3 linked regions of the Homo sapiens genome follow. The protein of the gene in region 3 purifies or fractionates together with the protein of the main gene of each other region. This does not show direct contact. Each region holds a gene or a part of one and is shown on either strand. Other genes may lie near its edges.

Region 1 (3,658 bases), on a different chromosome or scaffold from region 3:
GGCTCAACCTATCTTGCCTTTCTGTCCCCTAAAATGACTTCAGTCTTCAAATAACACTAAAAAAAACTTACTCCAAAGAGGTGTTGAAAGATAAAAACTGGGCCGGGCGCGGTGGCTCACGCCTGTAATCACAGCACTTTGGGAGGCCGAGACAGGAGCATCACAAGGTCAGGAGATCAAGACCATCCTGGCTAACACGGTGAAACCCCGTCTCTACTAAAAATACAAAAAATTAGCCAGGCGTGGTAGTGGGCGCCTGTAGTCCCAGCTACTCGGGAGGCTGAGGCAGGAGAATGGCTTGAACCCAGGAGGCGGAGCTTGCAGTGAGCCAAGATTGCGCCACTGCGCTCCAACCTGGGTGAGAGAGGGAGACTCCGTCTCAAAAAAAAAAAAAAAGAAAGATAAAAACTGTAACCATTTTGCTTCCATACGAGTATGGTTTCCCAAATACGTTCAAAAACTTGATTGTATGAAAGCTCTGGAAACCAGAAATTTGGATTAGCTAAATAGAAAAATATTTTTAATAGCTCTGCTCAATATCACATTTCTGTAATAAACAGCTACTATTTACGAATTGCCTACTATGAAACAGGCATATTATAGTAGGTGCTCTATGTTATCATAACATTTAATTCTCATAACAATGAGTGGGGTAGCTATTATACCCACTTGCAGCAGAGGAAACTGAGGCTCAGGGAGATTAACTTCCCCAAACCACAAGACTGATAAGCGGAAGAGCTGTGTGTCAAACCCAGATCTGACACCAAAACCCTCTTCCCACCACATAACACCATCTACCTATTTAGTAGGCACTGTTTGTTCATCTTGATTACCTCAACTCAACTCTGCAAAGCCACCTAATATAGCTGAAAGAAATGATGAAGGGAATGCATATAAGTCATTTAATATGCGCACAGAATCTTACTGTTAGCAAAGCAGACATTTTTATTTCACTTTTTTAGTGACGGGGTCTCACTCTGTCTCCCGGGCTGGAGTGCAGTGGCACAATCATGGCTCACTGTAGTGAGGCCTCCTGGGCTCAACTGATGCTCCCGCCTCAGCCTCCCAGTTAGCTGGGACTACAGATCCATGCCACCACCATGCCCAGATAAATAGACATTTTTGACAATAGCTTTGTGGATTAAGACAGCTTGAAAAAAAAAACAAATTTTGTGGAAGTATGTCTCTATCATTCAGAAAATTAGGGAAAAACCTACCAGTTCTTCCCCCCGAACAATAATATTCTCTAATTTTACAGCCACTTTTTCATACTGTCTAATTTGATAGTTATTCAGAGCCATACACTGTATGCAGGCAAGATACTGATATCTCTTTCACCTATCCAGAAATTGGAGCACAGAAAGAAAACACTGACACACTTCTTGTCTTCTTACTCCCAACCCAGGCCTTCTCTACTGTCTCATGCCTGGACGCCCGTCATTACCTCTGCCTCCTCATGGTGCTCAATGAGGGCTTGTGGGGGAAGGTTACGTAAGTTGCAAAGCTTGGATTTCACCATGATGGGAACATAGCCAAGAAACTGCTTAATGATTCCTTTTGAGATTCCATTCACTGCCCAGTTGATATCAGCCTAAATGAAAACAAGAGAAAAAGTTACTTAACAGAAATATCTGCATTTACGAGAACAAATGAGTATTTTCAAAGACTGAGGAAGAAGATCAATTAAATTATTTTATGCCTTAGATTTAGAAGGTGGGATCTCTTAGACAATAGCACCAAGAAAGCAATTTCTGGCATAAACTTTATTAGGCACCCGCCCTACTCCCAAATATGTGCAGTGTTGAGAGTCACACAGTATCACTAGTACTCACTGTCAACTTCCCACGGTAGGTACTCCTTCGGCCCCGGCATTCTGCTGGATAAACATTGGCCTCTTTGCAGATGGTCCCTTTTGGAACTGTAGGTGGACTGATAACAGCATCCAGAATAGTAAAAGAGATACGCTCATCTTTGAAAGCAAATTCAAAGGGAGGTATAGCCTGAAATGCAATTCACACTATTAAATTGCTTGCATTTCCAAGGCATTTTTTCTCTAAGACTCTTCCAAATCTTATGTGTTCTACAAACATTGATGCCTGTGATGCCACCATGACACACCTAAAAAGGACAGTTAAGGCTACCTCCAGTTGGCCGGGCGCAGTGGTTCACGCCTGTAATCTCAGCACTTTGGGAGGCCGAGGTGGGAGGATCACAAGGTCAGGAGATCGAGACCATCCTGGCTAACACGGTGAAACCCCATCTCTACTAAAAATACAAAAAAAATTAGCCAGGCGTGGTGGTGGGCGCCTGTAGTCCCAGCTACTCGGGAGGCTGAGGCAGGAGAATGGCGTGAACCCGGGAGGCAGAGCCTGCAGTGAGCAGAGATCACGCCACTGCACTCCAGCCTGGGCGACAGAGCGAGACTCCGTCTCAAAAAAAAAAAAAAAAAAAAAAAAAAAAAAAAAAAGCTACCTCCAGTCTACTCATAACTTCACTAAATACTTAAAACCACAAAGCATTATTAGTACAAGATTGTTTTGAGTGACCACATGTGTCAGAGACTGTAGTAGGCTCTAGGGATACAGCTGTGAACAGAACAAAATTCCTGTTCTCTGAACCAAGAGCCTTGTGTATTCTTAACTTGTCTATGTGCATAGCAAGACAAATGGGACTACTGCTAATAGAGCAAGGATACGGAAACATCCTTTAGGATTTAAGACTAGATGCTTAATGTACAATGGCAACGTCAAACTGAAGCCAGAGCCATGCAAAGGAAAAGATGGTGGCCAGGCTGGGTTTCCCCTTCCACAGAAGTTACTTCTTTGTACCATTCTGTAGGGGAAGCTTTGCTGTTCTGAGGAAGGGGCATCACCAAGCTCTCCTATATATTAATTACAAGCAACCTCCTAGACTTAGTCTTAGAATAATGAAAATGAAAAAATGGAACCAAGAAAGAATACCAAGGAGGTTCTCCACCTTCACGTGAGTTAACTTACCTTTTCTAAATTTTAAAATGTTATCTAAAGCTGGTATTATTTTAGAAATTCATATTTTATTTAAAAATAAAAGCCAGATGCAGTGGCTTATACCTGTAATCCCAATATTTGGGAGACCGAGAGAGGAGGACTACTTGAGCTCAGGAGTTTGAGACCAGGCTGGGCCACATAGGGAGACCCCGTCTCTACAAAAAATAAAAATAAAAAAATTAGCCGGGCATAGTGGTGCACGCCTGTGGTCCCAGCTACTCAAGAGGTTGACGTGGGAGGATCACTTGATCCTGGAAGGTCGAGGCTGCAGTGAGCTATAACCATGCCACTGCATTCCAGCCTAGGTGACAAAGTGAGATCCTGTCTCAAAAAAAAAAACAGAATGAAGTTAAAAAAAGAGAGATTAGACAATTTGCTTTCTCAAGACGCAGCTGCACTATTTAGAAGGAAATACAGTGAACTGTCATTATTCATAATAGTTATGTTCTATACAGTTGCCATAAACACTGAATTAGCCAATACTGAACCACTGCTCCTAGGGTAAATACATGGTTAGCTTCCTGCGAGCCTCTGGTCACATTTCATCAACTGATCAACACACAATCTTGTATTATGTGTGTTTCTGTTTAAGGACAGCTTATTTAATACATATTATTGAGTCCGTAACTCAT
Region 2 (2,558 bases), on a different chromosome or scaffold from region 3:
AAATATATGAGAAGATGTGTATAGGTAATGCAAATACTATGCCATTTAATATCAGGGACTTGAGCATCTGTAGATTTTGGTATCCATAGGGGGTCCTGGAAGCAATTCCCCATTAATACTGAGGGATGACTAATCTTGTATCATTAAGTAGTATGGGTCAGCAATATTTATTCAAAAGTATTAGTTAAGTACCTCCTATGGGAACATCGTCCACTTGTATATCTGCTGCAGTGCCTAGTATGCTGCAACTGCTATGTAAGTACTCACTGAATTGAATTATTTGTTTAACCACAAAAAACAAAGTGTGCCTGAGTTCGAATCCTATCCCCACCACTTATCAGTTGTGTGATCTGGAACAACTTACTTAACTTCTCTGCTTTCATTTCCTCATATGTAAGATGGAAAATAATAATACTATCAGAATTGATGGGAGTATTAAACCAGTAATATTTATAAAGCATGTAGAATAGAGCTCTGTACATAATAAGTATTATATAAACAATCTTATTGTTAATAGTGTAGTTCTTTGGATATTTGGATATTAAGATTTTTTAAATTCAAGTTTGCCCCAGTGATTGCGAATCTTTTTGTATATGTAATTGCAGTTTATGATGTCTCTGGAGCAGCAAGTGACAGAAATTGTGTGGTTCTCAGTGATATTCACATCGACATCATGGACTATATCCAGCCTGCAACTTGCACTGATGCAGAATTCCGTCAGATGTGGGCCGAATTTGAATGGGAAAACAAAGTTAGTCCTTGGGAGATTTTCTCATATTCCTTTATCTTTCTTCCTTTTGCCTGCTGTTGAGGAGTCTGCTAATAAAATTAATCTCGCTAAAAAGTGTTTAACATGAAAAGCAAATAGTCTTTCAGTATCTGTTCTTGCAAATTAGCCTTAACTAAAAATCATGTAAGTAGTTTGGTAATTTGCTGTTATAAATTGATTAGAGTAGCAGTTCTATAGCCAATCTGATAGGTTTAGACATTATAGGTAATATTCCATCCCTTCTATGTATGACCAAGAGCTTACCATTTAATCTAGTGCCCGAAAAAGGCTTTACAAAGTTCATGGTCTGTTGAGGAACTTTGTCCCTTTGAGCCTTGACTTTTATTAGAAATATTCTATATGAGGCTGGGCACGGTAGCTCGTGCCTGTAATCCCAGCACTTTGGGAGGCTGAGGCAGGCAGATTGCTCGTGCTCAGGAGTTCTAGACCAGCCTGAGCAAAATGGTGAAACTCCATCTCTACAAAAAATACAAAAATTAGCCCGGTGTGGTAGTCCCAGCTACTCCGGAGACTGAGGTGGGAGGATCACTTGAACATGGGAGGTTGAGGCTGCAGTGAGCTGAAATGACGCACTGCACTCTAGCCTGGGTGACAGAGTGAGACCCTGTCTCAAAAAAAAAAAGAAATATTCTATATGCTTCATATTGAATCTCTGTGAAGTTATCTCTATTGGGAAGTACTGATACCAACCTACAGCTTGTTGGATTTTATAGATGTTATTTAGTTTCTTGGTGTCTACTCTTTCCAACCTAAACAGTTGGAACAAGTTTTTAATATGACATACTGGTGATTCACAGCTTTCTCATAGTAAGATTTATGATCTCCTTGACTTTTTTTTCCTCTCTACAGGTGACAGTTAACACCAACATGGTTGATTTAAATGACTACTTACAGCACATATTAAAGTCAACCAATATGAAATGCCTGACTCCAGAAAAGGTAAAATTTGACTAGGAAATTCAGAAATCTGATGGAATGGTAGAGTAGGTTCCTGGCCTTCCTGTATTTCCTCTAGCACATTTTTGTTATTCAATATGCAGTACCATTCTAGGCTATCTAAAAGATGTTATCCCATAGAATGTTGGAATCTGCTTACCTCTTTCTATTGGACTATACCATCCTACTTTTTCCTAGTGCAGTGACCCAACTGAATAGTCAGATTAATTTTTTTTTTATTTTCTTTTCAATCTTCTCCCCCATTCAGCTAGAGGCACATTCTAAAGTAGTTTATGCTGCACATGGTGGTTCATTCCTGTGATCCTAGCACTTTGAGAGGCTGAGGCGGGCAGATCACTTGAGGTCAGGAGTTTGAGACCAGCCTGGCCAATATGGCGAAACCCCATCTCTACTAAAAATACAAAAATTACCCAGGTGTGGTGGCACGTGCCTGTAATCCCAGCTACTTGGGAGGTTGAGGCAGGAGAATCACCTGAACCCCAGGGGGTGGAGGTTGCAGTGAGCCGAGATCACACCACTGCATTCCAGCGTGGGTGACAGAGTGAAACTCTGTCTCAAAAAGATAAATAAAATCGTTTATTTGTAATACTGGATTAGAAAATGTCCATGAGCTCTTCCGTGGGCTCTGATTGTTGGTTAAAATATATGTGCTCAAATACAGAATCGTTGTTATACTGTGACTTTTTGCTATGTTTGTGTATGTATGAAAAAAACGAGAGAGAAAGAAAAATGAAGCTGGAGCTCTAAGGAACTTTTTTCTTTATGTAAAATTTCTATAATGTTATAATATTCATTTTATAAATAAAATAAT
Region 3 (3,658 bases):
TATTGTGGTAAAGGATCTTGGAGATCATTTAGTTCAACCTATTCATGATACAGGTTATTCTTTTGTCTAAGAGTACCCTTTGGGAATGATCAGACACTTTTCTGTTGATTTTTTGGAGAAATATGGGAGAAACAGTGGAATATTTTTATGACATTTTTAGGAAATCACCTGGCTTGGTTGGTAGTCCCACACTGACTTTCCTTATGATAATTCTACAGATGGAGGTGACACGAGCAGTGATGAGGATAAAGAAGAACATGAAACTCCTGTGGAAGTAGAACTCATGACTCAGGTTGACCAAGAGGATATCACTCTTCAGAGTGGCAGAGATGAACTAAATGAGGAGCTCATTCAGGAAGAAAGCTCTGAAGACGAAGGAGAATATGAAGAGGTTAGAAAAGATCAGGATTCTGTTGGTGAAATGAAGGATGAAGGGGAAGAGACATTAAATTATCCTGATACTACCATTGACTTGTCTCACCTTCAACCCCAAAGGTAATTAAAAAATAAAATTTTACATATTATTGTGTAAGCTGAGAATGATGATGAGGTAATCCTTACAAAGATAATACCAAGATTGACATCAGTACTTTTACACTCCATTGTCTTAATACTTTTTCAACATTTGATTGGGTCTCTCTGCAAAGAAATTCCCAGGACCAGGGTAGAAAAATACAGTGCATATAGAGTGGCCAAACTAGATCCAAATAGAAACAAGTAAATGGTTATAAATGCTAAAAACATAACAAAGGCAATTCCATCAAAGAAATGTGTTTTAGTCTATATAATGTTTTGCAGATCATCAGGTGAATAGTCCATAGTTATAAATGCATAATTAACTTAGGGGTAATTCAGAACAGTCTAGGAGTCAGACAGACCAGTATTGGGTCTTAGGGTGCGTCCTTGGGAAAATTACTTTGTGCTTAAGCTTCAGTTTCCTTCTTGGTGAAAACAGAATGGTATCCCTTTCATAGGGATTTGGTGAAGGTTTCATGCGTGTATACCATCTGGCAGTGCCTGACACACAGTAAGTTTTCAATACACGTCACCTATTTAAAAATGTATATGGAAGTGTGGAGAGAGGAGCAATTTGGTTGTATGTTTTTCTCACTTCACCAAATTTGAAAATTTGTTGGATTGCCAGTACTTAAGAGTATGATATGGGAATGTTTTGGGACTTTGTAAATGCATGTCTTTTACAGGCTAGTAGAGACTCCCTTGTGTTTATTTTCATAGGTCCATCCAGAAATTGGCTTCAAAAGAGGAATCTTCTAATTCTGTAAGCTATTTTCAGTTTTATGAAGAACATCCGATTCTCAGTGAATAATTTTCTACTTTTCAAAAAAGTTAATAGTGATATTTGCATTTGCCTGTTTTTTTGTTTTAATAGAGTGACAGTAAATCACAGAGCCGGAGACATTTGTCAGCCAAGGAAAGAAGGTAAACACATCTGTGTTAATTAACTAAAAAGCATGTTTTTCTTTTTTTTTTAATTGATAGCTCAGCTACCACAGATTACTTAGCTGTTTAAAGACTTCCTTCATTAAATTTACCAAGATTTAGCACAAATGTTTAGTTTTTAATATTAAGCTCTAATACATTTTTCTGTTTAAGGGCCCTAATCTATAACTATAATCAATGAAATAGACCTAGTAGAGTAAGTCCTCACTTAACATTTTCCTTTTTTTTTTTTTTTTTTTTTTTTTTGAAACAGGGTCTCGCTTTGTTGCCCAGGCTAGAGTGCTATGGCGCAGTCATGGCTCACTGCAGCCTCAAACTCCCAGGCTCAGGCAGTCTCCTGCTTCAGCCTCCTGAGTAGCTGGGACTACAGGCGTGTGCCACTACAAAAATTTTTATAGTTTTTGTAGAGACAGGGTTTCATCATGTTGCCCAGGCTGGTCTTAAACCCCTGGGCTCAAGTGATCCTCCCACCTTGGCTGCCCAAAGTGCTGGGATTACAGACATGAGCCATTGTGCCCGGCCTTCACTTAACATTTTCTTTTTTTTTGAGATGGAGTCTCGCTCTGTCGCCCAGGCTGGAGTGCAGTGGCATGATCTCGGCTCACTGCAAGCCCCACCTCCCGGGTTCACGCCGTTCTCCTGCCTCAGCCTCCCGAGTAGCTGGGACTAGAGGCGCCCACCACCATGCCCGGCTAATTTTTTGTATTTTTAGTAGAGACGGGGTTTCACCGTGTTAGCCAGGATAGTCTCGATCTTCTGACCTCGTGATCACCCGCTTTGGCCTCCGAAAGTGCTGGGATTATAGGCATAAGCCACCGCGCCTGGCCCACTTAACATTTTCAATAGGTTCTTGGAAACTTGGACTTAAGGGAAACAGTGTGTAATGAAACCAGTTTTGCCATGGGCTAATTGATATAAACAAGAGTTAAGTTCCTCTGGCATATTTTTGGTCACAAAACCATCACCAAGCTTCTAAATAAAGACTGAAAACTCTTCTAATATTAAACGTTAAAATAAATGTAAACTGTATGTATATTTAAGAAAGATGAATGAAAGCGAGCAAGATAATTATTTACCCAATTTTTGGTAAATCAATGAGTGATGGCAGTTGTAGTGGTAGTGGGTTAAATCAAGGATTATTTGCAAAGTGAAAACTATAGAGTACCTCCTACTACCATGAGGTTCAAAAACAAAAATGTGGCACATTCATTAAACACTTTCATACTACATTGTTGATTGTTATACATTTGTATGACTATAGTTTATGAATTTTTGACAATCATTTTTATTAAGTCATTCATTCATTCATTCATTCGTTTTTCAACCGCTTATTCCAGTTAAGGGTCATTGGTGGCTAGAGCCTATCCTGGCAGGTCAGGGCAAAAGGCCAGAACCAACCTAGAACAGGATGTCATTCTGTTGCAGGGCACACATACCTGCACTCATTCATGCTGGGATAATTTACACACACCAGTTAACCTGACATGCGCATTTTGGGATGTGAGAGAAAACCTGAGTACCTGGTGAAAACCCACAAAGACATGGGGAGAACATGTAAACTCTGCACAGATGGTAGCCGTGGCCAGGAATCAATTTTGTTCTCATCAAAGTTATAACACAATGATGTTGAATGAAATGATGTTATTTGAGGACTAGCTCTAATAAGACCTTTTATTACATAAACATGTACAATAATGATTTCAGTGTATTACATAGACTAGTTCTAGGGTGATATTGTCAGGAATAAATATGAATACCTGAAATTAGGAAAGTTTTATGTAAGGCAGAATAGTTGATTTTTTGTTTTTTGTTTTTTTTGAGACGGAGTCTCGCTCTGTGGCCCAGGCTGGAGCGCAGTGGCTGCGATCTCGGCTCACTGCAAGCTCTGCCTCCCAGATTCATGCTATTCTCCTGCCTTAGCCTCCCGAGTAGCTGGGACTACAGGCACCCACCACCACGCCCGGCTAATTTTGTTTTTGTATTTTTAGTAGAGATGGGGTTTCACCGTGTTAGGCAGGATTGTCTCGATCTTCTGACCTCGCGATCCACCCGCCTTGGCCTCCCAAAGTGCTGGATTACAGGTGTGAGCCACCGCGCCTGGCCGATTTTTTTTTTTTTTTTAATAGCAGGTCTCAGGAAGCAAGTAGAAGCAAGGGAAGGGCGGAAGGGAAGGGAACAACTACTGTAGGGTGGGAAA

Evidence for each region.
Region 1: the proteins of NEMF (region 3) and POLR1B fractionate together in Homo sapiens (co-fractionation; one large-scale study listed by BioGRID). This does not show direct contact.
Region 2: the proteins of NEMF (region 3) and COPB1 fractionate together in Homo sapiens (co-fractionation; one large-scale study listed by BioGRID). This does not show direct contact.

Annotation. Positions count from the first base shown.
Region 1 is NC_000002.12:112,545,354-112,549,011, reverse strand, and holds part of POLR1B (DNA-directed RNA polymerase I subunit RPA2), read right to left. Parts: intron 3,348-3,658; exon of another isoform or gene 3,090-3,347; intron 2,001-3,089; coding exon 1,833-2,000; intron 1,592-1,832; coding exon 1,445-1,591; intron 1-1,444. UniProt on the Homo sapiens protein: Catalytic core component of RNA polymerase I (Pol I), a DNA-dependent RNA polymerase which synthesizes ribosomal RNA precursors using the four ribonucleoside triphosphates as substrates.
Region 2 is NC_000011.10:14,459,379-14,461,936, reverse strand, and holds part of COPB1 (coatomer subunit beta), read left to right. Parts: intron 1-605; coding exon 606-751; intron 752-1,639; coding exon 1,640-1,729; intron 1,730-2,558. UniProt on the Homo sapiens protein: The coatomer is a cytosolic protein complex that binds to dilysine motifs and reversibly associates with Golgi non-clathrin-coated vesicles, which further mediate biosynthetic protein transport from the ER, via the Golgi up to the trans Golgi network.
Region 3 is NC_000014.9:49,797,257-49,800,914, reverse strand, and holds part of NEMF (ribosome quality control complex subunit NEMF), read left to right. Parts: intron 1-218; coding exon 219-495; intron 496-1,236; coding exon 1,237-1,279; intron 1,280-1,390; coding exon 1,391-1,440; intron 1,441-3,658. UniProt on the Homo sapiens protein: Key component of the ribosome quality control complex (RQC), a ribosome-associated complex that mediates the extraction of incompletely synthesized nascent chains from stalled ribosomes as well as their ubiquitin-mediated proteasomal degradation.